Linked DNA regions of Homo sapiens. The protein of the gene in region 2 interacts with the protein of the main gene of each other region in a pairwise test. Each region holds a gene or a part of one and is shown on either strand. Other genes may lie near its edges. The genes, in order: TMEM14C, TMEM52B, CLDN19 and SLC35B4.

Region 1 (7,550 bases), on a different chromosome or scaffold from region 2:
CTCTGAGAAGATAGCACACTCTCTGTAACGTCTTCCTGCTTGAGTCCACCTTGGCTATGAGCTGTGTTGAGAGTTCTCTGTGCTGTCCTCCTTTGTAGGGCAGCGGTCTGGGGGATTCCGTTAGTGAAATAAGTGCCTGACATTACAATGCAAGCTGTGTTTGCTTCCCTCTAGGCAGCGTGCCGTCCCTGGCTGCAGGGCTGCTCTTTGGCAGTCTAGCCGGCCTGGGTGCTTACCAGCTGTCTCAGGATCCAAGGAACGTTTGGGTTTTCCTAGGTATGTCTGCTTTGGCGTCTCCTTAGGGCAGCTATGTATCCAGAATACTCTTTTCCAAAAGACCCTGGTTTGGTGGGATGGGGTGAGTTCTTCACACTTCACTTACGACAATTTCACTGCTTCTACCAAGTCCTCAGAAAGTTTTAAAATGAGGGTGCAGAGGCAGGAATTATGCTGGTTTCTGTTTATCTTTTACATACAGAACATGGAAGGATTTTCATAGCTCGTGACTATATTTACCCAGTAGCATTAAAATTCTATCAGGCAAATGTATCAACCGTTGAGGTTGCCCACTGAAGACCTTTGGCTTCAGCATCACTAAACTATCACACGTCTGGGTTAGGTTTGCATCTGAATTGCGATTTCCCCATTTGAAAATCACCTCTTTAGCAGTTAGCTAAATGTGACTGCAGTGACTCACACCTGTAATCCCAGCACTTTGGGAGGCCGAGGCAAGTGGATTACAAGGTGAGAAGTTCGAGACCAGCCTGACCAACATGGTGAAACCCCATCTCTACTAAAAATACAAAAATTAGCTGGGGGTGGTGGCGGGTGCCTGTAGTCCCAGCTACTTGGGAGGCTGAGGCAGGAGAATCACTTGAACCTGGGAGGCAGAGATTGCAGTTGAGCTGAGATCACACCACTGCACTCCAGCCTGGGCGACAGAGCAAGACTCCATGTCAAAAAACAAAAAACATAGGCATAGAAGCAGGACTGGAAAGGTACCCTGTAAGCAGCACGGACAGTGAGTGGTGTGGGGGACCGAAGAGTCCTCCTTATCAGAGTGGCTTTCAGTACATTTCTGTGGGGCTCCACCCATGTGTCAGACACTGCTAGGAGTGTGGGTTCCTTGCGGTCTCTACAAACCCCGTGTGAGAATGAGTGCCATGTGGGAGGGAGAAGCCATGTGATCTGTACATATCAGCTGGGGTGGGGAAGGGAGGTCCGTGATGGCTAATGGGGTGTGCTGGGGAAGGAGGTGTGTCCAGGTCCCAGCTCTGCCTAACAGCTCCCTCCCTCATGCTCCAGAATGACTTGAGCCTGCATTTTCCCTTTCTCTGATGCTACTCTACTCAGCAAATGACCTCACGCCTATTGTAGGGAAAAAACAGCAGCCATCAGGTGGGGACTCCTGGAGCCTTTAATCTCCAAGCCTCCCCTCGTCCTGTTTCCCTCCTCTCCAACACCAGTGTCTTCCTCTGGGCTTTGGGTGTCTTCTCCCTGATCTTCTCCAGACCTTTACACTGGCCAGGATCCTGTCTTGTATTTGTATTCCTCCTTTTAGGTGGATCCCCGCATTGATATTCAGATGTGCTTGTCTCCTTCCCCTTCATAAACTTCCCTTTTTTTGAGATGGAGTCTCACATATTGCCCAGGCCAGAGTGTAGTGGCACAACCTTGGCTCACTGCAACCTCCACCTCCCAGATTCAAGCAATTCTCCTATCTCAGCCTTCTAGGTAGCTGGGATTCAGGCGTCCACCAACATGCCCGGCTAATTTTTCTATTTTTAGTAGAGACAGGAGTTTCGCCATGTTGTCCAGGCTGGTCTGTAACTCCTGACTTCAGGTTTGGGAGGCCAAGGAGGGTGGATTGCCTGAGCTCAGGAGTTTGAGACCACCGTAGGCAACGTGGTGAAACCCGGTCTCTAATTTAAAAAAAAAATTAGCCAGGCGTGGTGGCGGACGCCTGTAGTCCGAGTTACTCAGGAGGCTGAGACTTGAGAATTGCTTGATCCCAGGAGGTGGAGGTTGCAGTGAGCCAAGATCACGCCACTGCACTCTAGCCTGGGCGACAGATCAAGACTCTGTCTCAAAAATTAAAAAAAAAAATGTGACTCTGTTCATGTGTCCTTCTGCTTAGCATCCTTTAATAGCTTCTCATTGTTCTTACGATGAAAACCCAAACCCCAGTATGGCCTTCAAGGCTCCATGTGGTCTGGCACCTCTTACTCACAAACTGCATCTTGACTTCTGTGCCATGCTGCCCTTTTAGGGTGAATGTCCCATGCTCCCTGTCACCACAGGGCCTCTGCATATACTGTCCCCTCTGCCTGGAATGGGCCTTCCCATCCTTCAGCTCATTAATTCCTGCGTAATTTCAGATCTCAGCCAATCTTCACTTTTTTGTCTAAGCCTTTTTATTCGTGTGAGTCTTTAAAGTCTGTCCCATCAGACCTGAAGCACTGTAAAAGGGCAAAGACAGTTACAATAACCTTTGTATTCTCCAGCTCCTAGCACAGCACTTGACATGTAGTAGGTGCTTCGACAGATACCCAGTGGGAATTGTGTGCAGGGTAGAGGAAGTAGCGTCTGCAGGGCGTGAGAAACAGTAGCATTTTGGAGAAAACTAACATATTGATGGCTAAAGTGTGGGTTTTGCAGAAGACAAGTGGTAAGAGATGAAGCTGGAAGGGCAGGCAGGACCCAGGCTGTGAAGGGCCCTATTTGGCCAATATTGGTACTAGGACCCATAGGATGTGGGCAGTCAGTAGTCTCCCCGACTTGGGGAAAGAGGAATAAGCATAGGATGAGGCGTGAGCCTTGAGAGATGGGTGGGGCTTGGCCCACTTCTGATTCCCCTGCGTAGAAGATGTAATGAGTTTTAACACTTCTTTATATGTTTTTCATCAGCTACATCTGGTACCTTGGCTGGCATTATGGGAATGAGGTTCTACCACTCTGGAAAATTCATGCCTGCAGGTTTAATTGCAGGTGCCAGGTACTTTCATTCTATTACTCTTCTTTACCATGTAGAGTTCAGTTTATTCCCCAGGATACCTTATGCATTCAAAACCTTACTTGTTTCAGGATATCTGATGCTATGTATCAACTGACATTTGATATATACACTAATAGGAAATGTTTCAAAAACAATAGCTAGTTTAATGTCAAAATGGCATGAGTATATCCATTCACCGTGGAAATGGGTTTGTTCTCATATTTGCTTTCCAGTCCATCCAAACTCCTCCCTATATGGTGGCAGAAGTTTTAGTGCAAAGCCATGACTGCAGCCTTTTGTGTGACTTGCATGGAAGATTTGGGGGCCCCATATTTCTTAGATGTGTAGATGTCTTTTACAGAAAATTTTGCTAAAAGAGAATTTTGATTGAATCCTGTTTTCTATTTTTTGTTGTTGTTATTGAGACGGAGTATCACTCTGTCACCCAGGATGGAGTGCAATGGCGTGATCTCCGCTCACTGCAATCACCATCTGCCTCCCGGGTTCAAGCGATTCTCATGCCTCAGCCTCCGGAGTAGCTGGGATTACAGGCGTGCACCACCATGCCCAGCTATTTTTGTTGTTTTGGTAGAGATGGTGTTTCACCACATTGGCCAGGCTGGTCTGGAACTCCTGATCTTGTGATCCGCCCACTTCGGCCTCCCAAAGTGCTGGGATTACAGGCGTGACCCACTGCGGCTGGCCCTGTTTTCTAATTTTGATTATAAAACCTAAACCAAATTGTGGTTTTTAAAAAATTTAGTTGTGGCTGGGCACAGTGGTTCACACCTGTAATCCCAGCAATTTGGGAGGCAGAGGCAGGCGGATCACCTGATGTCAGGGGTTCAAGACCATCCTGGCCAACATTGCGAAACCCCGTCTCTATGAAAAATACAAAAATTAGCTGGTTATGGTAGTGGGCACTTGTAATCCCAGCTACTCGGAAGGCTGGGGCAGGGAGAATTGCTTCAACCTGGGAAGCGGAGATTACAGTGAGCTGAGATCATGCCACTGCACTCCAGCCTGGGGGACAGAGCAAGACTCCATCTCAAAAAACAAACAAACAAACAAACAAAACTTTAGTTGTAGGCCAGGTGTGGTGGCTCATGCCTACAATCCCAGCACTTTGGGAGGCCAGAGCGGGCGGATCACTTGAGGTCAGGAGTTCAAGACCAGTCTGCCCAACATGGTGAAACCCCATCTCTATGAAAAATACAAAAATTAGCCGGGCATGGTGGTGCACACCTGTAATCACAGCTACTTGGGACACTGAGTCAGGAAAATCTCTTGAACCTGGGAGACGGAGGTTGCAGTGAGCCGAAATTGTGCTGCTGAACTCCAGCCTGGGCAACAGAGGTGAGTGAGACTCCATCTGAAAAAATAAAAATAAAAAACCTTCTCAAAAACAAAAAATTTAGTTAAGTATCATAAAGACATCCTGAAGGTAGGGGAATTTTTAAAAATCTGTTTTGGAGAAAGATTACATACTCTGATCATAGTTGTGATGCTACCAGTATAATGTTTTATACCTGAAGCAAGGAAGTCAGTGTGGAGCAAGGTCTAGAGCAGTAAACTGAGACGCTGGAGAGTCTACCATTAATCAGATCTGTGATGGTGGGGAGGCCTTGCTCTCTCTTGCCTCCATTTCTTCATCTCTTCAAATTATTGGCAGTTGGGTTAGGATCCAGCTCATGTGTGCTATTTTAAGACTCCCTTGGCTTGCTTTTTCTCTGGTTCCTCCAGGGATGGAAATTTACCCCTGACCACTCTTGCCTTAGTACCTCCTCCCCCACGCAGTTGTGAGGAACCAGCAGTTTAGTTCCTTAAAAACATAGTTGCCTGTTCTGTCCTTTACCTGACATTTTCTATCTTGTTTCTTTTAAACAGTTTGCTGATGGTCGCCAAAGTTGGAGTTAGTATGTTCAACAGACCCCATTAGCAGAAGTCATGTTCCAGCTTAGACTGATGAAGAATTAAAAATCTGCATCTTCCACTATTTTCAATATATTAAGAGAAATAAGTGCAGCATTTTTGCATCTGACATTTTACCTAAAAAAAAAGACACCAAACTTGGCAGAGAGGTGGAAAATCAGTCATGATTACAAACCTACAGAGGTGGCGAGTATGTAACACAAGAGCTTAATAAGACCCTCATAGAGCTTGATTCTTGTATATTGATGTTGTCTTTTCTTTCTGTATCTGTAGGTAAATCTCAAGGGTAAAATGTTAGGTGTCAGCTTTCAGGGCTCTGAAACCCCATTCCCTGCTCTGAGGAACAGTGTGAAAAAAAGTCTTTTAGGAGATTTACAATATCTGTTCTTTTGCTCATCTTAGACCACAGACTGACTTTGAAATTATGTTAAGTGAAATATCAATGAAAATAAAGTTTACTATAAATAATATTTCCTATGGGGTCTTCATTGCCAGAGCTGTCTAGTTCATAGAATGAGATATTGCTAGCAGCAAGATATAGAAACATGAAAGTATTTTGTTAATATTTAGAAATTACCTATTTTGAATAACTTAAGGACCAAGGAAACTTATTTGATTGTACATTGCATTGAAGCTTGTTTCAAAAATGACCTCTGAGGATTTTTTTTGTTTTTCAAGAGACAAGGTCTTTCTCTGTTGCCTAGGCTGGAGGGCAGTGGTGCAATCATATGTCACTGTAGCCTCAAACTCTTGGGTTCAGTCATCCCACCTCAGCCTCCTGAATAGCTGGTACTACTGGTGCATACCACCACACCCAGCTAATGTACTTTTTTTTTTTTTGGAGATGCAGTCTTGCTCTGTTGCCCAGGCTGGTCTCAAACTCCTGGTCTCAAGTGATCCTCTCGCTTTGGCCTCCCAAAATGTACTGGAGTAATAAGCATGACCTACTGTACCTGGCCACTGAGGTTTTCTTCTTTTTTTTTTTTTTTTGAAACGGAGTTTCGCTCTTGTTGCCCAGGCAACCTCTGCCTCCCGGGTTCAAGCCATTCTCCTGCCTCAGCCTCCCAAGTACCTGGAATTACAGGCATGCGCCACCATGCCCGGCTAATTTTGTATTTTTAGTAGAGACGAGGTTTTCCATGTTGGTCAACCTGATCTCAAACTCCCGACCTCAGGTGATCCGACTGCCTCAGCCTCCCAAAGTGCTGGGATTACAGGTGTGAGCCACCATGCCCGGCAGCCACTGAGGATTTCTAAAGTTAGGACTGTGGGCTGGGCACGGTGGCTCACGCCTGTAATCCCCACACTTTGGGAAGCCGAGGCAGGCGGGTCACAAGGTCAGGAGTTCGACACCAGCATGGCCAATGTGCTAAAACCCCATCTCTACTAAAAATACAAAAATTAGCCAGGTGTGGTGGCGGGCGCCTGTAGTCCCAGCTACCAGAGAGGCTGAGGCAGGAGAATCACTTCAACCCGGGAGGCAGAGGTTGCAGTGAGCCAAGACCGCGCCACTGCACTCCAGCCTGGGCGATGAGACTCTATCTCAAAAAAAAAAAAAAAAAAAAAATTAGGATTGTGTAGCAAAATTAAAAGGTGATTTTTTTGTTGTAATTAGTTCATACATAAATGTGAAACTAGAAAACCCATCTAGAGCTTGAATCACCTAGTTTGGTGTCTTTGTTGGACACATTAACTGGATACTGGTACCGTTTCAACACGAAGAATTAACTCAATCTGGTAGCCCTTGCTTTAGTTTTCATTCCGTCTTTAAAAAGGAAAACATACCATGTTCTCTACCCTGTTACTGCTTCAGAGTTTAATTCAGGCACTTTATGTATTTGCATAAGCCCCTTGAAAGTGGTCCTAGTTTTCCATCCTTTTTTATAGGACACTGAACAACTAAGGGCACTTGTGTTGGAGTGATAGAGGCATCAGAAGGCCATAGACCATCCAAACCTACCATCCTCCCAGGCTTCCATAGCTAAGAGTTTGAATCATGTTGGCCCTTTCATGTGTCATGCAGTGTTGCCAAAGGGCACACATTTTTGCCACCTTCAGTCCTAGAGGAGGACCTGGCTCCTGAATGACAAGGTTCCCTGAAGGTGGGATTAGTTTAGGTGCCAAGTAGACTGTAACTATTTGGTCCCCAGCAATCAACCTGGAAAATTCTAAGGCTGCCCACAGATGAGAGGCAAGAGGTCTTCATAGCTCTTGCCAAGTCCCCTTGTCCCTGCTTCTCTGCAAAAATCCCTGAATATTTACTATCGTTAAGGGTTGTACTGGGTCCTGGTGGGTCCGGAATTGGTTCCTTCCAGTACACTCTTGGTGTTGCCAACTTCAAGAATGAAGCCTTAGACCCTCGAAGTAAGTGTTACAGTTCCTAAAAGATTGTGAGTCCGGAGTGTCTTTCTTCTGGTGGGTTCGTGGTCTCGCTGATTTCAGGAGTGAAGCTGCAGACCTTCGCTGTGAGTGTTAACAGCTTTTAAATGTGGCGCGACCAGAGTTCATTACTCCCTTGCGGTTTTGTAGTCTCCCTGACTTAAGGCGTGAAGCCGCAAACCTTCAGTGTTACAGCTCTTAAAGGTGGCGTGCCCAGAGTTGTTCTTTCCTCCCAGTGGGTTCG
Region 2 (5,265 bases):
TGCAATCCCAGCTACTTGGGAAGCTGAGGCGTGACACTCGCTTGAACCCGGGAGGCAAAGGTTGAAGTGAGCCGAGATCGTGCCACTGCACTCCAGCCTGGGTGAGCGACAGAGAAAGACCCTGTCTCAAAACAACAACAACAACAAAATAGAATGATATGATGTGTTGCTGTTCACCTTTCCTACCTCCCCTTTCTCACTGTCATCTTAGGAAAAAAGGATAACCAAGGCTGGGCACGGTGGCTCAGTCCAAGGCGGGCAGATCATCTGAGCTCAGGAGTTTGAGACCACCCTGGGCAACATGGTGAAACCCCGTCCCTATTAACGTACAAAATTTAGCTGGGCGTGGTGGCACGGGCTTGTAGTCCCAGCTACTCGGGAGGCTGAGGCACGAGAATCATTTGAGCCCAGGAGGCGGAGGTTTCAGTGAGCCGAGATGGCGCCACTTCACTCCAGCTTGGGCTACAGAGTGAGACACCATCAAAAAATAAAAAAGGAAAGAAAGAAAGAGAGAGAGGGAAGGAAGGAAGGAAGGAAGGAAGGAAGGAAGGAAGGAAGGAAGGAAAAGAAGAAAAAGAAAAAGAAAAAGAAAAAGAAAAAGAAAAAAGATAACTGGGCATGGTGGCTCATGCTTGTAATCCCAGAACTTTGGGAGGCCGAGGCAGGTGGATTATTTGAGGTCAGGAGATTGAGACCAGACTGGCCAACATGGTGAAACCCCACCTCTACTAAAAATACAAAAATTAGCCAGGCACTTTTGTTGGCCAGGCACGGTGGCTCACACCTGTAATCCCAGCACTTTGGGAGGCCGAAGCGGGTGGATCACAAGGTCAGGAGATCGAGACCATCCTGGCTAACGCAGTGAAACCCCATCTCTACTGAAAATACAAAAATTAGCTCGGCGTGGTGGCGGGCGCCTGTAGTCCCAGCTACTCAGGAGGCTGAGGCAGGAGAATGGCGAGAACCCGGGAGGCGGAGCTTGCAGTGAGCCGAGATCGCGCCACTGCACTCCAGCCTGGGCGACAGAGCGAGACTCCGTCTCAAAAAAAAAAAAAAAAAAAAAAAAAAAAAAAAAAATTAGCCAGGCACGTTGGCACATGCCTGTAATCCCAGCTACTCGGGAGGACGAGGCAGGAGAGAATTGTTTGAACCTGGGAGGTGGAGGTTGCAGCGACCCGAGATTGTGCCACTGCACTCCAACCTGGGTGACAGAGTGAGACACTGTCTAAAAAAAAAAAAAAAAAGAAAAGAGATGAGGTAAAAATAAATAATCCTAAGGAGTCTATAGTATCGGGGGCTGGGGGAAAGGGATCTAAGTCTGAAAGGGGAAAGGGCAGGGTTGAGTTGCAGGATGCAGAAACATTCTTGGCTGGGTGTGGTGGTTCACTCCTGTAATCCCAGCACTTTGGGAGGCCAAGGCGGGTGGATCACCTGAGGTCAGGAGTTCAAGACCAGCCTGGCCAACATAGTGAAACCCTGTCTCTACTAAAAATACAAAAATTACCTGGGCATGGTGGCGGGCGCCTGTAATCCCAGCTACTTGGGAGGCTGAGGCAGGAGAATCACTTGAATCCAGGAGGCGGAGGTTGCAATGAGCCAAGATCCACCATTGCACTCCAGCCTGGGCAACAAGAGCAAAACTCCGTCTCAAAAAAAAAAAAAAAAAAAGAGAGAGAGAGAGATACAGAAACATTCTTTAGATTATTTGAGGTTACCAGAGAAAACAGGTCCTTCTAGCAGAGCAGGAAGCTGGGTTGTAAACATGCTTCAAAGGATATTCATAAAATTTGGGGCAAGGAGTGACAATGAGTTTGGATACTTGTAAAAAATGAAGCGACAGTTAAGTGTGAAGTAAGTCTCTGCTGTCTGAGGGTGTCCTGTTTCCCTTAGTTTCTTAGCTCTGTTCCTTCTTTCTTCACAGCTCTGCAGTCGGTGTTTGGCCCTGCAGCTCGGAGGATCCTGGCTGTGGCTCACTCCCACAGCTCCCTGGGCCAGCTGCCCTCCTCTTTGGACACCCTCCCAGGGTATGAAGAAGCTCTTCACATGAGTCGCTTCACAGTAGCCATGTGCGGGCAGAAAGCACCTGATCTACCCCCAGTACCTGAAGAAAAGCAGCTGCCTCCAACAGAGAAGGAGTCGACTCGAATAGTTGACTCTTGGAACTGATGAGAGCTGTCATTTTATAAATAGGAGTGGAGTGATGTCCAGAGTCTGTGGGAAAATGGAACACATACTTTTCTAACCCTCAGAAGTTTTAAGATGGCATCTAACACCATCATTCTATGGGAAAGATGGTTCTTACTCTTCGTTCACAGGCCTTTATATCTTCCGATACAGAATGCTCTAATTGGGAACTCTAATTTTGTATCCAATGGCCAAAATCTGCAAGTAATCTCTAGCCACACTGATTACTACTAAACCAGGAAAGCATCAAGGTGTCTTGAATTCCTTTAACTATTGAGTGCATATAGAATTCCTGTACCCACATGATACTGCAAGTTGTGTCTCTCTCTGTCAGCGAATCCACTGCGGTTAACTGGAAAAGAAAGACAACAGTGTCAGCACAGCCATCGACATTAATGCACTGAATGCATGCATCTTTCCTCCTGAGACAGCAATCGATTTTACACCGAATGACAATGATCATCTTAGACAGCACAACATACCCACTCGGATATCTAAAAGCTAGGGATGGCATTGCTGATATGGGCAAAGAGAACACAGTATAGTATTTAAGTGCCAAATATCAGTCTTTCTTTCTCTCTGGTCCTACCCCTCAGCAGTATGAAAAACTCCATACTGTGCAGTCACAGTTGGATTAATTCTTCAGTTCCTCCGCACTGCAAACACATATATGTGCGCACATGCATGTATACCTGCACCCTGTTTTAACTCTAAAGGAATAGTGTTGCTTTACTTCTTTCCTGTTTTGCCTGGACCACTTAAAGCCACAACACCTCTATAGTGACACACGCTAGTCTCTAGTGGTGGCCCTCACTGCCACCTAGAGGAGCCATGGTGGAAAACACACTCTCTCCTTTGAGCCTATCTGCACATCTCTCGAGTTCTTGGAGCAAAAACTAAATGCTGAACTAAGCCTGGTTGAGATGCTTCCCATGGACCATGCCGCAGCACAGTGCTAATCTATCCACAAAACATACCACCTCCCAAAGTATTATTATTGGAAAATCGAGGAAGTGACGCACATTTAGGGAAAAACTACTCACCTTAGAAAAGTCACTGAAATCCTTTTTTTTTTTTTTGAGATGGAGTTTTGCTCTTGTAGCCCAGGCTGGGATGCAATGGCATGGTCTCAGCTCACTGTAACCTCCACCTCCCGGATTCAAGCAATTCTTCTGCCTCAGCTTCCCGACTAGCTGGGATTACAGCTGCCTGCCACCGTGCCCAGCTAATTTTTGTATTTTTAGTGGAGAGGGGGTTTCACCATGTTGGCCAGTCTGGTCTAGAACTCCTGACGTCAGGTGATCCGCCCACCTTGGCCTCCCAAAGTGCTGGAATTAGAGGCCTGACCCCCTGCTCCTGGCCTGAAATCTTTAAAGCCGTTTTTTCCCTAAAAAATGGGAAATAATAACACCTCAGAAGGTTTTTGTGAAGATCAAAGAAGCTAAATATATGTGGCATGATTTGTAAAGTGTTATGCATATGTATGTTATTCTTCCTACTGTCTTCTAACCTTCCCTTGCCTGCTATGACTTATCTGAGAGCCATGTTCCCATTTATCTTTTTGCCAACTATGTTACTGTTGTCACACCTGAAATGGCTTTGTTTTTATCAATAAATACTTGTTGATTGCGGTAAACAGCAACAGATATAAGTGATTCCTCGTAATATGTTCTGGGTAGAGGTAAGGAATATTTGAGAAAACTAATTGTTTATTAGGCAATTAATTAACTCCAGAACTCAAGGAGGCAACACAGAGCCAAGAATTGGCTGATTATGCAGCTCCTTGTTAACTACATTCTTGGAATGCTCACTCAGCCCGGAGGGAAAAATGTTCTGAGTATAACCTGCTGGGGATCTGAAATTATCCTGAGTCATTTAACAAATTGGCTCTGGGAATTATTGAAATGCATGAATTGCTAATAGCGCCTGAAGGGACCTTGTTTTACTGCTGCCAAATGAGTCATTTAGTCATCAAAGACACATTCCAAAAGACATTCTAGGCTCTTCTATTAAGGCACCAGGACATCACAGACTTGGCAAAGGTAAAATGTTCATTGGCATTAGAATATCTTGGGGGAAATCTTGCCTATAATGTCTTATCCTAAAGGATAAGACATAATGTCTATTCCTAAAGGAATCTCTCTTCCCCACATCCACTCCCTAGCCCCTACCACCTTATTTGAAATATAGAATCACTTCCAACCATGACATGCTACTACCCTGTCCCCTGTGTCCATCCCATAGTGTGCCTTTTCCTCATCTGCTTCACATGTGCTGCTCCTCAGTCACATGGAGTCTCTCACTCCCGTAACTCCCCCATTTGGTCACTAGTTATTTGTACCCCTTTGGCCTCAATTCTTTCTATACTGAATCTAATACATCTGTTAATCACCTCCATCACCATCATTATTGTTCTCAATTTTTTAAAATCCTTTTTAACTTTCTTCACATCTACTCTTTAAACACTGGCTCGGCTGGGCACAGTGGCTCACGCCTGTAATCCCAGCACTTTGGGAGGCCGAGGTGGGTGGATCACTTGAAGTCAGGAATTCCAGACCATCCTGGCCAACATGGTGTAACCCCGTCTCTACTAAAAATACAAAAATTAGCCGGGCGTGGTGGTGCGGGCCTGTAGTCCCAGCTACTCGGGAGGCTGAGGCAGGAGAATCGCTTGAACCTGGGAGGTGGAGGTTGCAGTGAGCTGAGATCATGCCACTGCACTCTAGCCTGGGCAATAAGAGCAAAACTCTATCTCAAAAAAAATAATAAATAAATAAATAAATACATACATAAATAAATAATTTGAGTTGTGCTTGCATTACAATCATTTAACAGGTTTTATGTGTGTTCAGCAAGTATGATTTAAGAAATTACGTACCAACTGGGCACGGCGGCTCATGCCTGCAATCCCAGCACTTTGGGAGGCCGAAGAGGGCGGATCACAAGGTCAGGAGTTCGAGACCAGCCCGACCAACATGGTGAAACCCCGTCTCTACTAAAAATACAAAAATTAGCTGGGCGTGGTGGCACGTGCCTGTAATCCCAGCTACTCAGGAGACAGAGGCAGAAGAATCGCTTGAA
Region 3 (9,824 bases), on a different chromosome or scaffold from region 2:
GATCTGGCTGAGGGCTCAGGACACAGGCCCAGCCACCCCCAGGGGCCTCCACAGGCCGCTGCATGACAGCGATACAGTACTTAAGTGTCTGTGTAGACAACCAAAGAATAAATGATTCATGGTTTTTTTTACTTGGTTTGTTCAGACAATGGAAATTTGCCCATTCTGTCCCAGAGGTCTCACTTGATAAAAATTGCTCTAGGCAGGACCCAGTGGCAGGTGTGGGACGAGAAGTCCTGGCTTGGCACCTGGCTCAACCACTTGCTGTGCAGCCACAGGCCAGACACTTAACCTTCAGCACCTCGGGGTTGTCATCTGTATAATGGGGATCATAGTCCTCCCTCTGCTCACCTTCTGGGGCAGCTGTATGGCCCAGATGCAATATCGGATGTGACAACACTTTTGTAAACGGTAAAGCTCTGGGTGAATGGTTGGGATTATTGTTAATCCTCTTCTGGCAGGGAGCGGCGGTCAGCAGTGCTCTGGCACGTCACCCCTATGTCAGCCACATGCTTCCTGCTCTGCCGTCTGGCCTCAGTGTCCTGTATCTCGGCCTCCCTGTGCAGGAAGACACACTCTAGGAAACACTGGAAATGGAGATTCAGCTCCTCTGGCTACATCCCTGGTACTAGGTCCAGAGCTTTTACTGTGCTTGAGATGCCACAGGGCGTTGAGTGTAGGAACCTGCACATGAGTGTTCACTTCTTCCATCAATCAATATGTATTTACTGAGCACCAGCTAAGTGCCTGGTGCTGGGAACGTGGCAGTGAACAAGTCCCCACCTTCATACAGCTTGTATTTTGTAGGAGAAACAGATAACACATGTAAATTGTGTGTGTGTGTGTGTGTGTGTGTGTGTGTGTGTAAAACCCTTAGAGGTAGAAAATAAAACAAGTCAGGGTCCAAGGTGGAGGAAAAACAAGGAAGCCAATGTGGCGGTGTAGATTGGTCAAGAAAGAGTATGGTGACATTAGCCAGGAGACGTGTCACGTGCCTGTAGTCCCAGCTGGACGCTGAGGCAGGAAGATCGCTTGAGCCTGGAAGTTCGAGGCTGCAGTGAGCTATGATCGCCCGACTGCACTCCAGCCTTCACAAGAAAGCAAGATCCCAACTCTAAAAACAAATAAAAAGGAAAGTGGTGGATTGTCAGGGGTGTCTGGGGGCCTATTTTTAAAGTAGAGCCAACAGGCATTGCTGATGGATTGGATGTGAGGTGTGAGAAAAGGCATCAAGAAGAAGCTAGGCCAGGCTCAGTAGCTCCGCTTGTAATCCCAGCAGTTTGGGAGGCGAAGGCCAGTGGATCACTTGAGTTCAGAAGTTTAAGACCAGCCTGGTCAACATAGGGTGACCCTATCTCTAAAAAAAACTTGAAAAGCCAGGCATGGTGATGCACACCTGTGGTCCCAATACTAAGGAGGCTGAGGTAGGAGGATCATGAGCCCAGGACGTCAAGCCTGCTCCATTGCACTCCAGCCTGAGTGACAGAGCAAGACCATGTCTCAAAGAAAGAACAAGGCTGGTCTTTGTGGCTCACGCCTGTAATCCCAGCACTTTGGGAGACTGAGGTGGGTGGCTCACCCAAGGTCAGGAGGTCGAGACCAGCCTGGCCAACATGGTGAAACCCGTCTCTACTAAAAATACAAAAATTAGCTGGGTGTGGTGGCAGGCGCCTGTAATCCCAGCTACTCGGGAGACTGAGGCGAGATAATCATTTGAACCCAGGAGGCGGAGGTTGCAGTGAGCCAAGATCACGCCATTGCACTCCAGCCTGGGCAACAAGAGTGACACTCCATCTCAAATAAATAAATAAGAACAAAAACAAAAATTTCAATTAAAAAGTTTATTGGGCTGAGCACAGTGGCACACACTTGTAATCCCAACACTTTGGGAGGCCAAGTCAGGAGATCACTTAAGCCCAGGAGTTCAAGACCAGCCTTGGCAACATTGGAAGACCGTATTGCTATTAAAAAAGAAAAATTGTTTTTTAGGAAACGATTATTTTTTGAGCTGGGAGATAGCACTGCGTGTTAGTTGGCTGGTGGGAATGATCCAGTCAAGACAGTCACTCCTCCTTTTATCATGGTTGATCCCCGCCATCCTATTTGGGTGGCTCACTCGGCGTACAGAGAGGACCACGTTAGTGCAAAAAGCATGAACTTTACCCACACACTGAGCTGGGTGACACTCCCACTTCCACCATGTGGAGTTGTGTGACCTCCAGCAAGTTAGGGAACCTGTATGTGTTTCCTCACCAGCGGAATGGAATCACAGTCCTTCCCGCGATGGTTGAGCGGATGAACAAGGGAATGCTCACAAAGCAACCAGCACGACACTTAGCCCATGGTAGACATCAACATTACAGAAGACTACATCAGCCTAATTCTGGTTTTCCAGAAGTTTCCACATCAAGGCAGATGACTTTACAGTTTCAACTTATGCTAAACAGATACAGGCAGCAGCCTCTTAACTGAGCTCACAAAAGGCCAGATGTTTTCAAGGCAGCAGGCCCAAGATAAGTGTATATAGAGTGGGGCGAGTCCTCCTGGAAGCATGGGGTGATGGCAGCCCGGCTGAGATGCGACTGTGATTTCGGTCTGCGTTTGGTAACGCACATGCAAGGGCGCGCGAGCAATGAGAGGATGACTGCTTGAGAAGAAAGGAGAGAGCCCATGGGAGGGTTGGAGGGGATGAAAGGCAACTCCTCAAACACAGTGAAGATTTGGATGTGGAAGACGCCGCTGGTCTCTGGCGCCCCAGGCATCTAGCAGAGCTCTCAGCAGGGGCATCAAGAGACAGATGCTGTACTCAGTGTGGTTAGCACAGGTAAATGGGACAGCCACATGTGTCACAGAGGCGCAGGGCCCGGGCGAGAGGGTGGAACACAAAAATGTGTCTGCTAACACAGTCTCAAGGTGCTCAGGGACCTTAGGAAGGAGGTAAACGACGCAATAAGTGCAGTGAATGGAAATATGCCAAGAGTATGATGGGATTGCAGATCAGGATGCTTAGCCGTGCCTGGGCAGGCAGAATCGTTGGGGGTGGCCACACAGCTGGCTGTATTGCTTTCTAGCTGTGCGCCCTGAGGCAAGTAGTCTCCATTCCAAGCTTATAGTTCCGGGAATCTCAGACTCTGAGTTGGGAGGGTGATAAGAACTCCAAAATTTCAAATGATGATTGCAGAGAAGGTGCTAGATTGCTAAAGACTGAATCGGACCCTCCTAACTGACAATGAGAGAGGGCGGTGGAAAGGTCTCCGATTTTTCACAGGGAGGGAGGCAAAAGCATTGAATCCTCATACCAATCAGTCAATGATCAACACATACCTAGCAAGGCTGGCTCTCGGTCAGGCACTGTTGCAGAGGAAGTGGCAGTGGGTCTTCAGCCACAGGCAGTCTGCCCACTCCCAGAGTGCGAAGGCTGGAGGGGCAGACTGTGCGGGGAGTCTTTTTGGAACAGAGCTTTCATTAGTCACAGTTCTGCAGGCGTTTTATGCTTTCAAACAGCCTTTCTCACCTATCATCTGATCCTTGTAAACTCCCTCATGCATCAGACAGGGCAAGTGTTATTATCCCTACTTTTCAATGGAGAAACCAGGCCCAGGGAAGCTGAGGATTTGGCTAATGTCCCATAGCTTTTCAGTGGCAGGGGTAAAGCTAGAACTGTAGGCTTCTCATAGCCTGAGTGAAAGCACAGGGTGCTGTGCTACCCCAGGGCAGTTTCAGTGAGCTCTTAATGGAGGCTGGGCTGTGACCCTGAGCCTTCCTGTTCTCCCCGCATGTCTGGGAGTCATTGGACTGCAAGGGGGGGCACCAGGAGTGGTAGGTGTCCTGGGTGGAGAAGCTGTGCCAGGTTAAGGAATGCCGCTCCAGAAGCAGAATCTGAATTCCAAAAGGCTTTGGAACAAGAATGAGGGAAGGCCGTCAGGGTAGGAGAGAATATTTTGGTAGAACAGACTCAAAGCCTCAAATAACAAAGAGAAGGGATAAACAGAAGCACTTCAGAGGAAGAGGAGAGCACTGTTCCGGATCACGAAGAGGCTCTGGGAACACCCAGGATGGAGGAGCATGCAGGCCTCCTGCTGGCTCTGTGGCCCTGTGGACCCGTGGCTCCCTTTCTCTCTTTGGCCCTCAAATTGTCAATGGAGGGGGCCGCAGCCCATGGTCTCTGAGGCATGCTTCTGACTGGCCTCTGGGCTCCTGACCCAGGTCCCCCTGAAACCAGAATGACCCCTGGATCTTCCCTACAGAGAGAGCGCCTGCAGATGGCGGGGAAAAGGGGCCAAGGCCCAGCGTGGAGAGAAGGAGGACTTTGCCTTTGGAGGAGCATATGCGGAGCAGCTACCCAGCACCAGGCCCCTGCCCTCCCCAGACATCGCTTACTTTAACGGACCACCACAACTCCATGAAGCAAACCTCCCATTTAGAGTGAGGACCCTGAGGCACCACAGTCATTCAGGTCACCCCTGGGGAGCATCTTGTCACTGCCCGCAGCCCCCTTCAATCTGGACCTGGTGCCTCCCTCAAAAAGGGAGGAGTGTGGGAGAGAGACCACAGGGGCCAGCACCACACAGTTTCAAGCGGAAAGCCCTTCCTGCTGTTTCCTGGCTGGGGGTCTATTACCTCCCTCTGCCGTGGTCTCCTTACTGTTAGGAGGCCTGCTGCCTGCAACAGTGGCCCACATGCTTAAATTAATGCACTGGTCACAGGGTGCCCATTGCGGCCCCAGTAGGATGGAGGAGGCTCCCCTCAATCCTACTGTCTTGTCATTGTGGTAGAAGAATCTGAGCTCAGGACTTACTTCTCTGCCACTGTCCTAGACCCCATTTGGTCTTGGGACCCACAGGTCGTCCAGGAAGCAGGTCTGTGTGTGCTCGGATCCACGTGGCTCTGACCCTCCCAGCACAGAGAGCCTGAGGGTCCCAGTGTGCACCACCACAGGTCAAGCAGTGCCCACCCTTGACCCTCAGATGGCAGACCACTCCCCCATCTCTGGCCAGAGCTGCAGGCCATACCAGAGGCCTACGCCCTGGGCGGGCACACAGGGCTGCCATTGTCTGCTCAGCGCCTGGCACCCTCTCGTTTGCATAGCCACGTGAAGAATGCAAGAGCGGGCTGGGGACTTGTCCCTTCAGAGGGGGGTTGGGGCTGTGGGGGAGGAAGCCAGCAGGGGTCTGCAGCAGGACCCTGCCTTCCCCCAGTGCAGTCCAGGAAGGGTGGGTGGGCTGTTGGGGACGGAGGGGGCGGCGGGGGGCTGGCAGGAGTGGAAGCAGGGTTGTGACATTCCTTCTGCACCCACGCTGCAGTGGGGCCCACTTGAACGTGAGGGGATTGCTAATGAGGTGGAAGAGAGTTAAACATTCCCCTACTCCTGAAGACCAAGAGAGACTGGGAGAGAGAAGAGGGAGGTGGGGGTGCTCGGAGCGGGCAGCCTGAACCCCGGGAATGTGCAGAGGCCACTGCTCCGCGCCAGGCTGCTCTAGAGTTGGGGGCCAGGGCCCAGTGTTCCAGTCCCAGCAGGAGCTACTAAGCCAGCCAGCAAGGGGATTAAGGGGCTGAGCAATCCGCCTTCCTTCAGGCTGATGCCAGAAGGTTGGGGCTGTCTCCCCAGCTCCCCACCAGGCCCCTTGCTGGCCGGCAGCCAGCGCTGGCCCAGCCTCGATAGGGCCCCTTTTCTGTCCCCCTCAGATCTCAAAAAGACCCCACAGTACATATTTCCTGGTCTGGCCTCCCTGATTTTTGGCACACACAGCTCCCAGGTACCCATGACCCCTCTTCCCAACACCCCACCGCTAGCTCAGCCTCCCCACATCCAGCTTCAGAGCCCCTGCCAAAAAGTTATCCTTGACATCTAACTCTAGTTTTACCCGCTGCAAACTGGCATTCCTTTCCCTTCTGTCCTAAAGTCAAAGGGCAGAAAACCCCAAGGGTTAGATCAGCCTTGCAAGAGCAAAGTCCATCCTCCCAGGGCTGGTGTTTGGGTTAGGGATTATCCGAATTTTAGGACACCCGAATCAGGTTCCTAAAGGGGTTTCCCTGTGGGGAAAGGCCCAGAGGGCAGCTGGGTCATTCCTCTCAGCCCCTCCCTTCCCTATCCCTGCGGAACGGGGCGGGGCAGGGACACCACCTGGGCCATGGGCCGGCCCTCCGCCCCCAGGGGGCTGGGCATGAGCTTTGCTGGGGACCCTGCTCTGGCTTAGGCGGCTGCTGTGGGCGGGCCCTGGCCTTTTCCAGCCCCTGGGCCTCCCCCTGCATTCTGGAGTCCAGAGCCACTGCCTTTGCTCCAGCCGCTGCCGCCGCACCACCTCTCCTTCTCTGCCTCTGACCCTCCTTCTCGCTGCTCCCCCTGCCCAGCTGCTCCTCCCACCTGGCCATGACCAAAGCCCCTGCTGGCACCCTGGCCCAGCTCTGAGTCCTGGGACCCTCGGTCCTCTCTCCTGGGCCATGGCCAACTCAGGCCTCCAGCTCCTGGGCTACTTCTTGGCCCTGGGTGGCTGGGTGGGCATCATTGCTAGCACAGCCCTGCCACAGTGGAAGCAGTCTTCCTACGCAGGCGACGCCATCATCACTGCCGTGGGCCTCTATGAAGGGCTCTGGATGTCCTGCGCCTCCCAGAGCACTGGGCAAGTGCAGTGCAAGCTCTACGACTCGCTGCTCGCCCTGGACGGTAGGCCCCAGGCCGGCGGGGTGGGAGATGGGAGGTGGGAACAGCAGGGGAGTCTGGAGCAAGTTTTCCTCACAGTCTGCTATCTGCGCTGGGCTCCAACCTCCAGCCTCCGCTCTACAATTCCCCCACTACTGCCCTGTGCCCATTGACGGTCCAGGCCAGCCTGCTGCCCTGTGGGAGGGGAGGGCTCTAGGGTCTGGCGGCTGTGGGTCCAGATTCCTGCTCTGTCACTATAACTTTGAACTAGTCACCAAACCTCTTCCCATTGTGATGTTCTCATCTCTAAAGGGGAATACTAATACCTGTGGCACTCTGAAAGACTCAGTTAAGACCCTTCATCCACTTCTCCCCACAGTCAGTAGACAGACACACACTGTATGATGCACACCTGCTCCCTAGTCCTGCTCCCAGGCCTGTGTGCCAGCATATGGGTGCATGCACATGCATGCAAACACGCATGCACACGCACACACGTGCACATGCATGCACAGACAGGTGTGTCTGCATGCAGTCCCTCTCCTTCTGGGGTGTGGAGATGAGCCTGACAGGCACCGCCGAAGTTCTAACTCTGGGGTGGAGGTGATCCACCTGCAATCTGCCCAGGAGCCCCCAGGGACAATCTGCTCCCCATGGGAGCTGGGAGCAGAGCGGCCTTCAACCAGCCCCATTGTGCCAGTTCAGGCAGGTCAGTTCAGGCAGGTCATCTAGCCTCGCTGAGGGACCCAGGTCTCCTGAGCACCCCCCAGGGCCCAGGATGGACCCATGCACCCGTGAAGAGGCAAGCTTCCAGCTGCCATGGGCAGAGGGGAAAGTGACTGTTGTCTGAATGGCTGCTGGGGAGGGGTTGCTGCGGGGCTCAGGCTGAGTTGAGCTGGGCCTCAGATACCCCCAGCTCTTCCACCTACCAAACCTGAGGGGACCCTGGAGCTGCCCTCAGCTGCTTGGGAGGATGGGCCAAGCCCAAGAGGGAGTCCCCAGGCCAGAAAGCAACAGCAGAGTGAATCATACTACCGGAAAAGCCTGCAAGGGCGAGTGGAGAATGGCGTTGACAGTGAAGGGGACTCTCACCCCCACACCCTGTCCTCATGCCCGGGCTGTCACTCCTCACTATCCTGCACCTGCCAGAAGGTGGTCTGACCCCCCAGGCCAGCTCCTGCTCAAGCCCCTCTCAAGCTGGGCTCCTTCCACCGACCCCAGGCACCGACCCAACCCCCATCCCCGCCAGCCCGACTCAGTGTCATCCCGCCCACCCTAGGTCACATCCAATCAGCGCGGGCCCTGATGGTGGTGGCCGTGCTCCTGGGCTTCGTGGCCATGGTCCTCAGCGTAGTTGGCATGAAGTGTACGCGGGTGGGAGACAGCAACCCCATTGCCAAGGGCCGTGTTGCCATCGCCGGGGGAGCCCTCTTCATCCTGGCAGGTGAGTGCCCCTCACTCCTGCACAATCACAACCATGGCAGGCAGCCCCAGCCCCAGTGGCCTCGGGGGGCCAGAGCAGAGCTGAGCGCCCCTCTGCTTTGTCTTTAGGCCTCTGCACTTTGACTGCTGTCTCGTGGTATGCCACCCTGGTGACCCAGGAGTTCTTCAACCCAAGCACACCTGTCAATGCCAGGTGGGTGCCAGGGCTTGGGTCTTTTGCTTTACCTCCTCTGGGGCCACTGACCTTTGTCCACTGGATCACCTGGCGGGGGAAGTGGGGACAGGATCCAGCTGCTGTCCAAGAAGCTTTAAAGGGGGGCGCCAGGAGGAGTGTGGTGGGGCCCTCCATAGGGGCGGGAGGCCTGTGATGGGCACCCAGGTGCAGCAAGGACTCTCTAAGGACCTAAGTGCCCTGGCTCTGGGTTTCAATCCCAGCTCTGGCTGGGTGCAGTGGCTCACGCCTGTAATCCCAGCACTTTGGGAAGCCAAGATGGGTGGATCACCTGAGGTCAGGAGTTCAAGACCAGCCTGGCCAACATGGTGAAACCCCGTCTCTATTAAAAATACAAAAAATATCTGGGCATGGTGGCGGGCGCCTGTAATCTCAGCTACTCGGGAGGCAGAGGCAGGAGAATAGCTTGAACCCGGGAGGCAAAAGTTGCAATGAGCCGAGATTGCGCCACTGCACTCCAGTCTGGGTGACAGAGTGAGATTTTGTCTCAAAAAAATCAAACGATCAATCAATCCCAGCTTTGCATGCACTGTGTCACCTGGGCAAGTTACTTAATCTTTCTGTGCCTAGTTTCCTCCTCTGTGAAATGGAGCTAGAACCTGAGCACCAGTTCACACATGGTTGTCAGGATCCAGCAGGATGCAGGTGAGGGTGTGGCACCGTGCCCGGGCCCTGGACAGTACCCAGCAAGCCTGAGCTGTTTTCATTTCTGCTGGTGGCAGCAGGGCTGAGATGACTTCCTGCAGGAGGCAGCAGTTATTCTGGGCCAGGAAGAAACTTGAGAATAAGGGCAGATCGTGGAGGGCCTTGCAACCACAGGAAGATTTTGTTCCTCATTTGGGTGGAGGCAGCGGCAGTCCTTCTGGCTGTGATGTGCAGAATGGTGGGGAGGGAGTGACACCAGGAAGGCGGCTGTCCCAAAGGTCTGAGCAGAGAGTTTGGGGCAACAGGGAGGGAGCAGTGGAAAGCAGGCTGATATTCAGGAGATAACCAGGACTTGTAAGACTGTGGGCATGGGAACTGAAGGGGATGCTCTGCAAAGGGCCTGGGCCCACCTTGGCTCCTCCCTCACTTCTCAGCCTAGCCAGGAGCAGAGAATGGGACAGTCTTAACCCTAGACATCCCAATGGGCTTTGGGCCTTGGGGTGGAGAGAGGATGAGAAAAGATGTCTGGGCTTTTGCAATCGGGAGGGATGCCTGGAGGAGGCAGAGGTGTTGAGAGGCAAGGGGAGGGAGGAGATCTCAGGTACAAGGTTTGTTCCCTGGGTGGTGGCTGCAGCCACAAAGTCTGCCAAGCAAGGTCCAGCTCAGGCATGTCAGGATAGGACTCGGCCCCCGATCCCTTCAACAGTCCCCAATGCCACTTGGGCTGCCAGGCCCTGTGCTGGGTCCTGGGGACACTGATGGCTCTGTCTGCCCTCAAGGGGCTTCCCAGGGAGCCGGACAAGCAAGGGGCTGAGGCCTCCTGGAGAAAGCATGGTAGTGGAGTCGGCGCAAGGGGCGGGGTGA
Region 4 (8,992 bases), on a different chromosome or scaffold from region 2:
CCCGACCAGTTTTTTCTTCCCTCAGACGGAGTTTTGCTCTTGTTGCCCAGGCTGGAGTGCAATGTTGCGATCTTGGCTCACCACAACCTCTGCCTCCCAGGTTCAAGCGATTCTCCTGCCTCAGCCTCCCGAGTAGCTGGGATTACAGGCGTGTGCCACCACGCCCAGCTAATTTTGTATTTTTAGTAGAGATGGGGTTTCCCATGTTGATCAGGCTGGTCTCGAACTCCCAACCTCAGGTGATCCACCCACCTCAGCCTCCCAAAGTGCTGGGATTACAGGCCTGAACCACTGTGCACAGCCCCTGACCAGTTTTAATGGAAAAAGTCATGCAAGGATCTCTCTGTTCTCTAAAAAGGTGACAATCAATCAACAGGTGTTTATTGAAAGTCCACTATGTTTTCAATGCTTTGAAGGTCACCTTATTATAATTGCTTTGGAAACTCCCTTCAGGAACAGTACAATCTCACAAAAATCTCAGACCACATGGAAATGTTATCACCACAATTATCAGCCTTTTTTGCCTGGAGTGCTTTGGGAGAAACCCTACCTTCATCAAGAATTTCCCTTTATTATCTCAAGTCTCTGCTTAAAAAAAAAAAAAAAAATCAGAAAAGACAAGTATCTCTTTCATGTTCTAGAAGTAAATGTACTTTTATGAAAGAAGAAGAGATAAGAAATAAGTTAAATAACATTAATAGCATGTTTGAATATAAAATCAAAGAGATGAGGGAAAATGAAGGTAAAATCTGTTTCCTAGGGAAAATTTAATTTTCTTTTTATTAATCACTCATTAGACCTCAGAAGAATAAAAGTAAACCATCCACTTTGAGATTTCTCTTTTTGCCTTCTCAGATGAAAGCCACCCTTGCTCACGCATTCACAAACCTATTCTTCTACCCAAGACCACTTACTACAAGAACCTTCTAGTTCTGCCATATATTCAATCGATCTACTTAACTATACTTTTCAGAGGAACATATACACGTGATCCGGCAGCACTTACGGATCTAAATATCATATGCAGGGGCATGGCAATGTTGAGATTCAGGGCATAGTTGTTCACCACGCTCACGGTGAAGAACATGGTCACCATTATGGCATAGTACCTGAAATGCAGACAGAACAGCTCATCAAACAGAATCTAGGATTTCAAGAAAATCAAGTATAGGAAATATATATTTTTGGCTAAAAAGGCATTTTGCCTGTTTCCTCTGCGTTGCAAGATTGCATCACTATTATGCCATGTCAACTACTAAGTACATATCAAAACGCTTCACAAAGCCAGACTAACATGGGAAAATCTAAGTTATAAAATACATTTAAAGAAACACTATTTAAAAATTTTCAAGTATACATAGCAACTTAAAATGATTGTATTGATTCTTTGTAAATAATTTTCATATACCTCTGAAGAACTTGAAAATGGCTGATTTTCTCAAATACCTCCTCTATACACTTGTTTGTACTGTTAATTTTCGCTGTTTCTAAAGAAAGTATTTGCTAAGTTAAGGATTATTTTCAGCCTAGCAGCTGCTAAAATTCTCCCGCATTCTGAACTAGTGGCCTCCAAATTAATGAGGACATGGTTTGACTTGTACAGATTTTTATTTAAAATCAGGGTCTCTGTTTTTTGAAAGTTTATAGGTCTTAAAATAATAGAAACAAAAACTAAAAAAAAAAAAAAATCCAGTAACCCTAATAACTTAAAGGGATAAATACAAATGAATTATTATGAACAGATGGATTAAACAAATAATTTTACATTTGTATGTCATCACTGTGATTCAGAAAATACATAAGATGCCTTCTACATATATTGGGCCAAACCATATAAAATTGCCGTTTTTATAGGTCAAAAAGAGTTGAATGTCAGAAATTTCATATGACTCAACTTCCTATATTGAGTAAGAGAAAAAAACAGCATTTAAAATAAATGGCTAAAGAATGCAGGGCAAAAGCAAATAAGTGGTTCCATATTCTTCAGGAAATGTTGATCTTGGAGATTCCCAACCATTTTCCACCTTTGCACATCTGAAGGATATGACAGCACTGAGTCCTAAGTGATCTTCCCTGAAAGAACCGATTCTGCGTTGCTAGTTAGGTGTGGAGCCATACACCACAACAGGCAGTCAAGCCAAGGCTGAATTAATATAGTCTGGAAAGTCTGAGGAACTTGACAATGAACACATATGCAAAATTACCAGCAACAGCTTCTTCACAGCTTCTAAATAATATACTATCAGCGACTTTACAAAGTTTCTTGCCAAATTTTCTTAGTTCTACCTTGAAGAGGTGCCATTTACAGAGTTTGTCAAGGTCTTTTAGGGTAATTAATTTAACTATTCCACATTGCTTGCCTAGAAATTGTGGATGGGGATGAACGACATGAGCAAAATTTTGTTTATGGCTCCACCTACAGAAAATAAAATGGCCAACACACATAGGACATGCATGAGAATATGGTTATGAGGGCAAGATCACAGAGACCCTCAAAGGGCAGGATGGGGAGTCTGGACATCATTCAGAACATCGTGGTAACCACAGAGTGGGGCGACATGATAAAACGATATTAAGTGAAATTGATGGATGAAGAGGTGGGAGGCAGGGAAGTCAGCCAGCTAGGATGCTATTATAAAAGATATGGTGACAGGGTATACTTCCTGATCTATGCTAGTGGTGGAGAGAATGGGGAGAGATAGTGGGAAGAGGCAGGAAAGGGCCAGAGGAGTCAAGAAATGCTGGGGCTTTTACTGCAATATAAATGCTGGTCTTTAGGGGCAGAAAGTTTTATGCAGATACTAAAGCAAATGAAAAACTAAAAGTATCTGGAATATTTAGCATCGCACTGGGAACTTTAAAAGTATAATATTAACAAAATTCAGCCAGATTTTCTATAGCAGGCTACGTAAGAATGCTGCAAAAGAAAACCAACAAAGATGGGCCTTTGCCTTCATACTTGGATATATTCACACCAGAATGTCGCTCTAAACGGGAGTAAGTGACATCATCCTACTAAATACTCACAACTGGATGGATTACACTTTTATCTCAAGTCACTCTCAGCAAGAAGGCTGAGTTTTCAATACACTGTTTAACATAAGAACTGCCCTGTTTTCTATTTGGCCCCATGAGTACAATTATGCACATTTGGACTAATGTACTACAGGTCTGGCATCAACAAATTTTGACTTTGCTTGCCATTCATTTTCTTTTAATTGAGGTGAAATTCACATAACATAAAATTAACCATTTTAAAGTGAACAATTCCGTGGCATTTAGTACATTCACAAAGTTATGTAACTACTACCTCTATTTATTTCCAAAAGCCATTCGTTTTTAAAAAGAAACAAGGATACTCCCCTTTTAGAATGTTTGATAACTTCACCAACACAGAAGACAGCACAAAATTTGTGGTCACACTAGGCCTTCTGACTAATCCTATACTAAATAAGAACACACACACATACACACTCTTGTCTCCATCATGGTTATTTTAAATCTTGTGGCAGAAATTTTATTTTCGAAGTAGGTACCCCGGATTTTCACAACATATTAAATTCAGAAAATGACTTATTATTCTACTGGTATCTTTGAAATAAATCTTATAAAAGAATGTCTCATCCTCCTTTTATACAGGTACCACCTCTTTACTTTCTTAAAAAATCCAAAAGCTAAAAGAGACTCTAATGTACCATACCTTATTGGGATAGCTGGTGGCTTCCTTCCCAAATCAGCTTCAAAGAGGAAGCCTTCCACAGCAATAAATAAAAATTGTGCAAATGTCACAATGTTCCCACATCCTGGATGCTTCCTGTATAGTGAATAATAAAAGAGGGGGTGAAGGCACAAAAACTGAGATACAGAACACTAAAATGCATTCTAATTAGAGGGCCAGAATAACAGCGTGGATGGATTTCAATTACCCACTGTCCTTTATCTCAATGTTCATAGCCTTTGGATCACATATACTTAGCATTGATCTCACAGAGAAGAATGTCAAGCTTTCTTATTTAACTCTTCCTTGCGTGTATCAGGCCATGAGTGAGAATTACTGTGACGACACACTTGTTCCCAGAACTACGATACAGCTTTCCTAGTAAACTGCAGGAAATTGGTCATATGTTCTTATTGGGATCTTTGCTTCACCAGAAAGGTCTTTAATCAGGATCCCAGTCAGCTTAGGTAGCAAAGCCCAGGGACAGAAATATGCTCAGGTCTCCTGGAATGTTTATATATCCCTCCTGACCAGGAATCACCAAGACTGCTGTCAAACGAAAAATGGACCCAGTGTTGATGATAGGAACATTACTTTAAATGGTGCCCAGCAACGGGGCAAAATTGGTTCTTGGGATGGGGGAGATATCTTACTCTTTTTATAACAATAAAGTACAAATATACATACAGTACCTGAACCAGTACACACTATATCTATGGCAGGGGAGGGATTAAGAAAACAACGTCTAAAAAGTATTCTGGAGGAGGCATAATGAACAAAAGACTGAAAAACACTGCCGTAGTCTACTATTCTCTACAGCTCTTAACCCAGTGTTTTGAATATATTAGGCACTCAAAAAATGTTTGTGGAATTCAATAGAGTCTCTTTAGTGATCTGTGAAACAGTTGGGGAAGATTCCCCACATTCAACAGTGATTGTTAGGAACAAATTTACAAAGTTAAAAACTTCCTCCTGACATTCATCTTGAGGCACTCTGAAAACTAGTCATTTAAAATGTTCAGGTTTTCTTGAGCTTGTCTTCCATTCAGCTCTGCTCAATCGCTGGAAGAAGAACAAAGTGAGCAGTTATCTTTGCTCTCCTGAAGCTTCCAGATTTCCTATAATACCAATATTCACCTGCCTTCGTATTCTGTGTTTTCATCTTTTTTTTTTTTTTTTGAGACAGAGTCTCGCTCTGTCGCCCAGGCTGGAGTGCAGTGGTGCCATCTTGGCTCACTGCAAGCTCCGCCTCCCGGGTTCGTGCCATTCTCCTGCCTCAGCCTCCCGAGGAGCTGGGACTACAGGTGCCCGCCACCAGGCCCGGCTAATTTTTTTGTTTTTTTTCAGTAGAGACAGCGTTTCACTGTGTTAGCCAGGATGGTCTCCACCTCCTGACCTTGCGATCCACCTGCCTCGGCCTCCCAAAGTGCTGGGATTACAGGCGTGAGCCACCACACCCGGCCTCTGTATTTTCATCTTGACCAAAGGCATTTACCTGAAGCTGGTGAGAGGTATGTAATTGTATTATTACATATTAATATACTGCTACTTACCAGAAATGACTCCATTCTCCATTGGTATTAGTATTATACAGCAATGCCAAGATATACAAGTCCTTAAATATACCCATTAGGCACAAAAATAAGACAATACAGGCATGAGCCATTCTTCTACAGAACTAGGCTTACTAACTGAAACAGAAATGTTGCTACTCTTTAAGCTCTGCTGCCTATGAAGGTTTCCTTGAAAACTGCTTTCTATTCAATTCAACAAGTTCTCTTTTAGCACTTCTTATGTTCAAAGGACAAGGCTAAATGCAGGAATCCATAAATAATCATGTAAGACATTTACCTCATTCAAGGACCTAATTAAAACCATTAGCCTAAATATGAGTGACAGAAGGAACTTTAACTCTAGATGGTTCCTAGCACGGTGCTTTGGAACTCGGGCCAGCCTACTCTGCTTTTTAAAAACCTGTTTCCCAAATGGTCGGCACGGTGGCTGGCTCACACCTATAATCCCAGCACTTTGGGAGGCTAAGGCAGGTGGATCACCTGAGGTCAGGAGTTCGAGACCAGCTTGGCCAACATGGTGAAACCCATCTCTACTAAAAATACAAAAATTAGCCAGATGTGGTGGTGCATGCCTGTAATCCCAGCTACTCGGGAGGCTGAGGCAGGAGAATCACTTGAACCTGGGAGGTGGAGGTTGCAGTGAGCCGAGATCATGCCACTGCCCTCCAGCCTGGGTGACAAAGCAAGACTCTTGTCTCAAAAACAAACAACAACAACAAAAAAACCTATTTACCCAAAGAGGCTCACTCTCCCACTTCTAATTTGATTAGTCTGGGGTAGGACCCTGGAATCTGTACTTTTAAAAGCTTTCCACTTGATTGTCACATGCAGCCAGGTTGGAGAAATACCAGTCAAGGTGCAGGGAAAGGGCTGAGAGTGTATGTGAGTGCATGTGTCGCTGTATATGTGAATGCACAGGTAGTTCTCAGGTGCTGACACAAGGTTGAGAACCACTATGCTCCACTGTGCTTAAAAGTACACACCGACATGCGATATGTTGCTCTGTCACTTGCTATGTGACAGAAGTGAATTAATTTATCTAAGTCTAGTGTTTTTATCTTTAAAATGGAAACCATATGAGTGCCTATCTCTGATTTATTGTAGAGTAAATGAGCCATCCCTGAAAAGCACTTAACACAGCGCCTGCCACAGAGTGAAAAAGGCAAATATGATGACCAGTATTTAGGATCTTGCAGGCTGAAAGGTCTTCAGCCTTTAAAAGACATTCCAGTTGACTAAGTTTTCTCATCTCTAAAATGAAACTGATTTCACTGTCGTAGTGAGTATTCAATGAGAAAATACATGTAAGTGCCAAGCACAAGAGGTAATCCAAAAGAGGCTTCAAAGTTTCCTTCTATGTTCTCTTTAACAAGTTTAGGCCAAGTCAACTAAAGAACAATTATCAAGACTCAATTATGTGTAGAGTTAGGTGGCTGCTTCCAGGGAGCCCCCAACTTGAATGGGACTGGATCCCTGCCCAAGAAGATGACAATATGGGAGAGCCAGATGCGAAGGAGGACGTCAGAAGCCAGTGCCTTAGCAGGGATGGTGATGGGACAGACCATGTCCCATTTACCTTTCTGCTCTCACTTTCGGGTCAGTGACCCACCTTTACTCAAGCAAGAGAATGAATGTGAGGGTTCCAATGTGATCTAGAATCTTATAATTTCTACAAAAGATAAAAAGAGATTTAAAAAATGATTCACATGACATGTGTATTCGCTATAGGATTTTTAAAAAGGGCATCTTAATACTTTTTATTTTATGGAGGTGGGTATTGATATGCCCATTTCATTCCATTTCTAAAGACGCTGAGGGTCCCATTGCACTGCGTCAGGTAAGTCTCCCAGCGGTCAACGGCAAATAAATGGCATTTGCGGTTACCCTTAGCATTATGATTATTACAATTCAGTGGGGTTAAGTATGGGTTTTTAGTTGTGCAATAATTGCCACTATCTAATGTTAGGACACTCCCAAGAGATACTCTATTCCCATTTTGAGTCACTTTCCATTTCTTCCTTTTCCCAGTCCAGCAATAACCCTATTCTACTTTTTGTTTCTATTTCTATAGAATTTAAAAATCTCCCTAATGTACTCAAATAATTTAATTTTTGAAAGCTCAACTTATGAAGCCTTTTCGAAACACACTGTTGTATAGCTACCAATGGAATTATTTATTTTAACTTGAATAATTCATTTTAAAACTTCAGAGTAAAAACTTGGATCCCTTAATCTTGTTTTCTTGAGCTCTCTTCCTCAGGAATTGTAATCACTAACTGCAAACAGTTTCTCTTACTTTGAATTCTCTTGGCAAAAATTCCAATTTTTATTTAAAAAAGAATGCAACTTTGAAGAGAATGAATTGGGCAGATCGTTTATGCCGTTTGCATTTCTTTTGCTGAATTTAGGAAACTATTTAATTCAAGATCAGGCACTTGAATGAAAAATAAAATAGGAAAAAAAATGTTTCAGATTGTTTTTCTGGTGTAAGGCAAGCAATAATATCTTGCCTAGTTAGTTAGCTGGTGTGTGTATATCTTGTTTCCAAGGTAGAATGTAAGCTCCCTAAGGAGGAATATCAAGGCACTCGTCCATTACTACCTATCTGCTCTGTCCACTGCATTGTGTTTTATTATTGGTCCCAATCATAGGGATAAAAATCAGAAAGAAAAGCCTGAGTTTGTTTTCCAATTTGGGGAAAATGGTTAAAAATGTCCTCTTCTTCCTGCAAGTCACTTAGCATTTATATTTAGTGTTATACTTGCTACTTATTAGGGCACCTACTGGCTCCAAGCCAGCCAATATAAAAAGCACAGTTCCTAGGCTATAAAAATTTATGGGGCTTCCACTGTGATGTCCCAAGATAAAGTCACAAATTCCAAGGCCATATCTAGAAAGAACCTTAAGGCCATCTGGTTCAACTAGCTCTTATTTTATTGATCTGTAACACAAGAAGTGGAGACTTGTCTTAGGAAAAGGCTCTATTCAGTCTGGTGCACCACTGATTATTTTAATAAATGCACCTCCTCACCACTTTATGAAAACCCATTGTTTTATGCAAAAAATGCAGATTTACAAAAAAAAGATAAGTGATGATTTATTTACAAATTATTCAAAATATTTTAAATAGGAGCTCCTATAATGCATGAAAATATTTTATAAAATTAGATTTGTCCACGACTTTGTAGGACCATAAATATATAAAAAAGAAATATATCTTTCTTTTATATATTAAAGAAATATATCTGTATTGAAACCAAATTGTTGGACAGAATGGGAAGCCCTACAAGTGTGCTTTAGGCTTCACATGCGCATCTCACTTCATCCTTCAAAACTCTGTGAAGCTGGTAGAACCATCATCACCATCACCCCCTTTTACAGTTGGGTCAGACTCAGGGAGATCAAGTAATTCAGTCAAGGGCTCACAAACTAGTAAAGAGGGGATTCAGTTGCTTGCATATTCTCATGTCATACAGCCTTTGGCAAGATTTAATTTAATGGCATATTCAACACAAATATTACCATTATTCCCTGACTTTCATTTCCATGGCTGGCCCGATGGTATCACTTTTTTATATTTTCTTTTTTTATTTTTTGAGACGTAGTCTTGCACTGTTGCCCAGGCTGGAGTGCAATGGTGCTATCTCGGCTCACTGCAACCTCCACCTCCCGGGTTCTAACGATTATCCTGCCTCAGCCT

The links.
Region 1: the proteins of TMEM52B (region 2) and TMEM14C interact in binary tests that used the Homo sapiens proteins (3 or more experiments, as listed by UniProt).
Region 3: the proteins of TMEM52B (region 2) and CLDN19 interact in binary tests that used the Homo sapiens proteins (3 or more experiments, as listed by UniProt).
Region 4: the proteins of TMEM52B (region 2) and SLC35B4 interact in binary tests that used the Homo sapiens proteins (3 or more experiments, as listed by UniProt).

What each region holds. Positions count from the first base shown.
Region 1 is NC_000006.12:10,725,733-10,733,282, forward strand, and holds the end of TMEM14C (transmembrane protein 14C), read left to right. Parts: intron 1-174; coding exon 175-276; intron 277-2,907; coding exon 2,908-2,995; intron 2,996-4,882; coding exon 4,883-4,934; 3' UTR 4,935-5,395; downstream 5,396-7,550. UniProt on the Homo sapiens protein: Required for normal heme biosynthesis.
Region 2 is NC_000012.12:10,187,975-10,193,239, forward strand, and holds the end of TMEM52B (transmembrane protein 52B isoform 2 precursor), read left to right. Parts: intron 1-1,921; coding exon 1,922-2,166; 3' UTR 2,167-3,830; downstream 3,831-5,265.
Region 3 is NC_000001.11:42,736,681-42,746,504, reverse strand, and holds the start of CLDN19 (claudin-19), read left to right. Parts: upstream 1-6,268; 5' UTR 6,269-6,441; coding exon 6,442-6,664; intron 6,665-7,919; coding exon 7,920-8,084; intron 8,085-8,191; coding exon 8,192-8,276; intron 8,277-9,824. UniProt on the Homo sapiens protein: Forms paracellular channels: coassembles with CLDN16 into tight junction strands with cation-selective channels through the strands, conveying epithelial permeability in a process known as paracellular tight junction permeability.
Region 4 is NC_000007.14:134,305,666-134,314,657, forward strand, and holds part of SLC35B4 (nucleotide sugar transporter SLC35B4), read right to left. Parts: intron 3,815-8,992; coding exon 3,701-3,814; intron 1,110-3,700; coding exon 1,007-1,109; intron 1-1,006. UniProt on the Homo sapiens protein: Antiporter that transports nucleotide sugars across the endoplasmic reticulum (ER) membrane in exchange for another nucleotide sugar.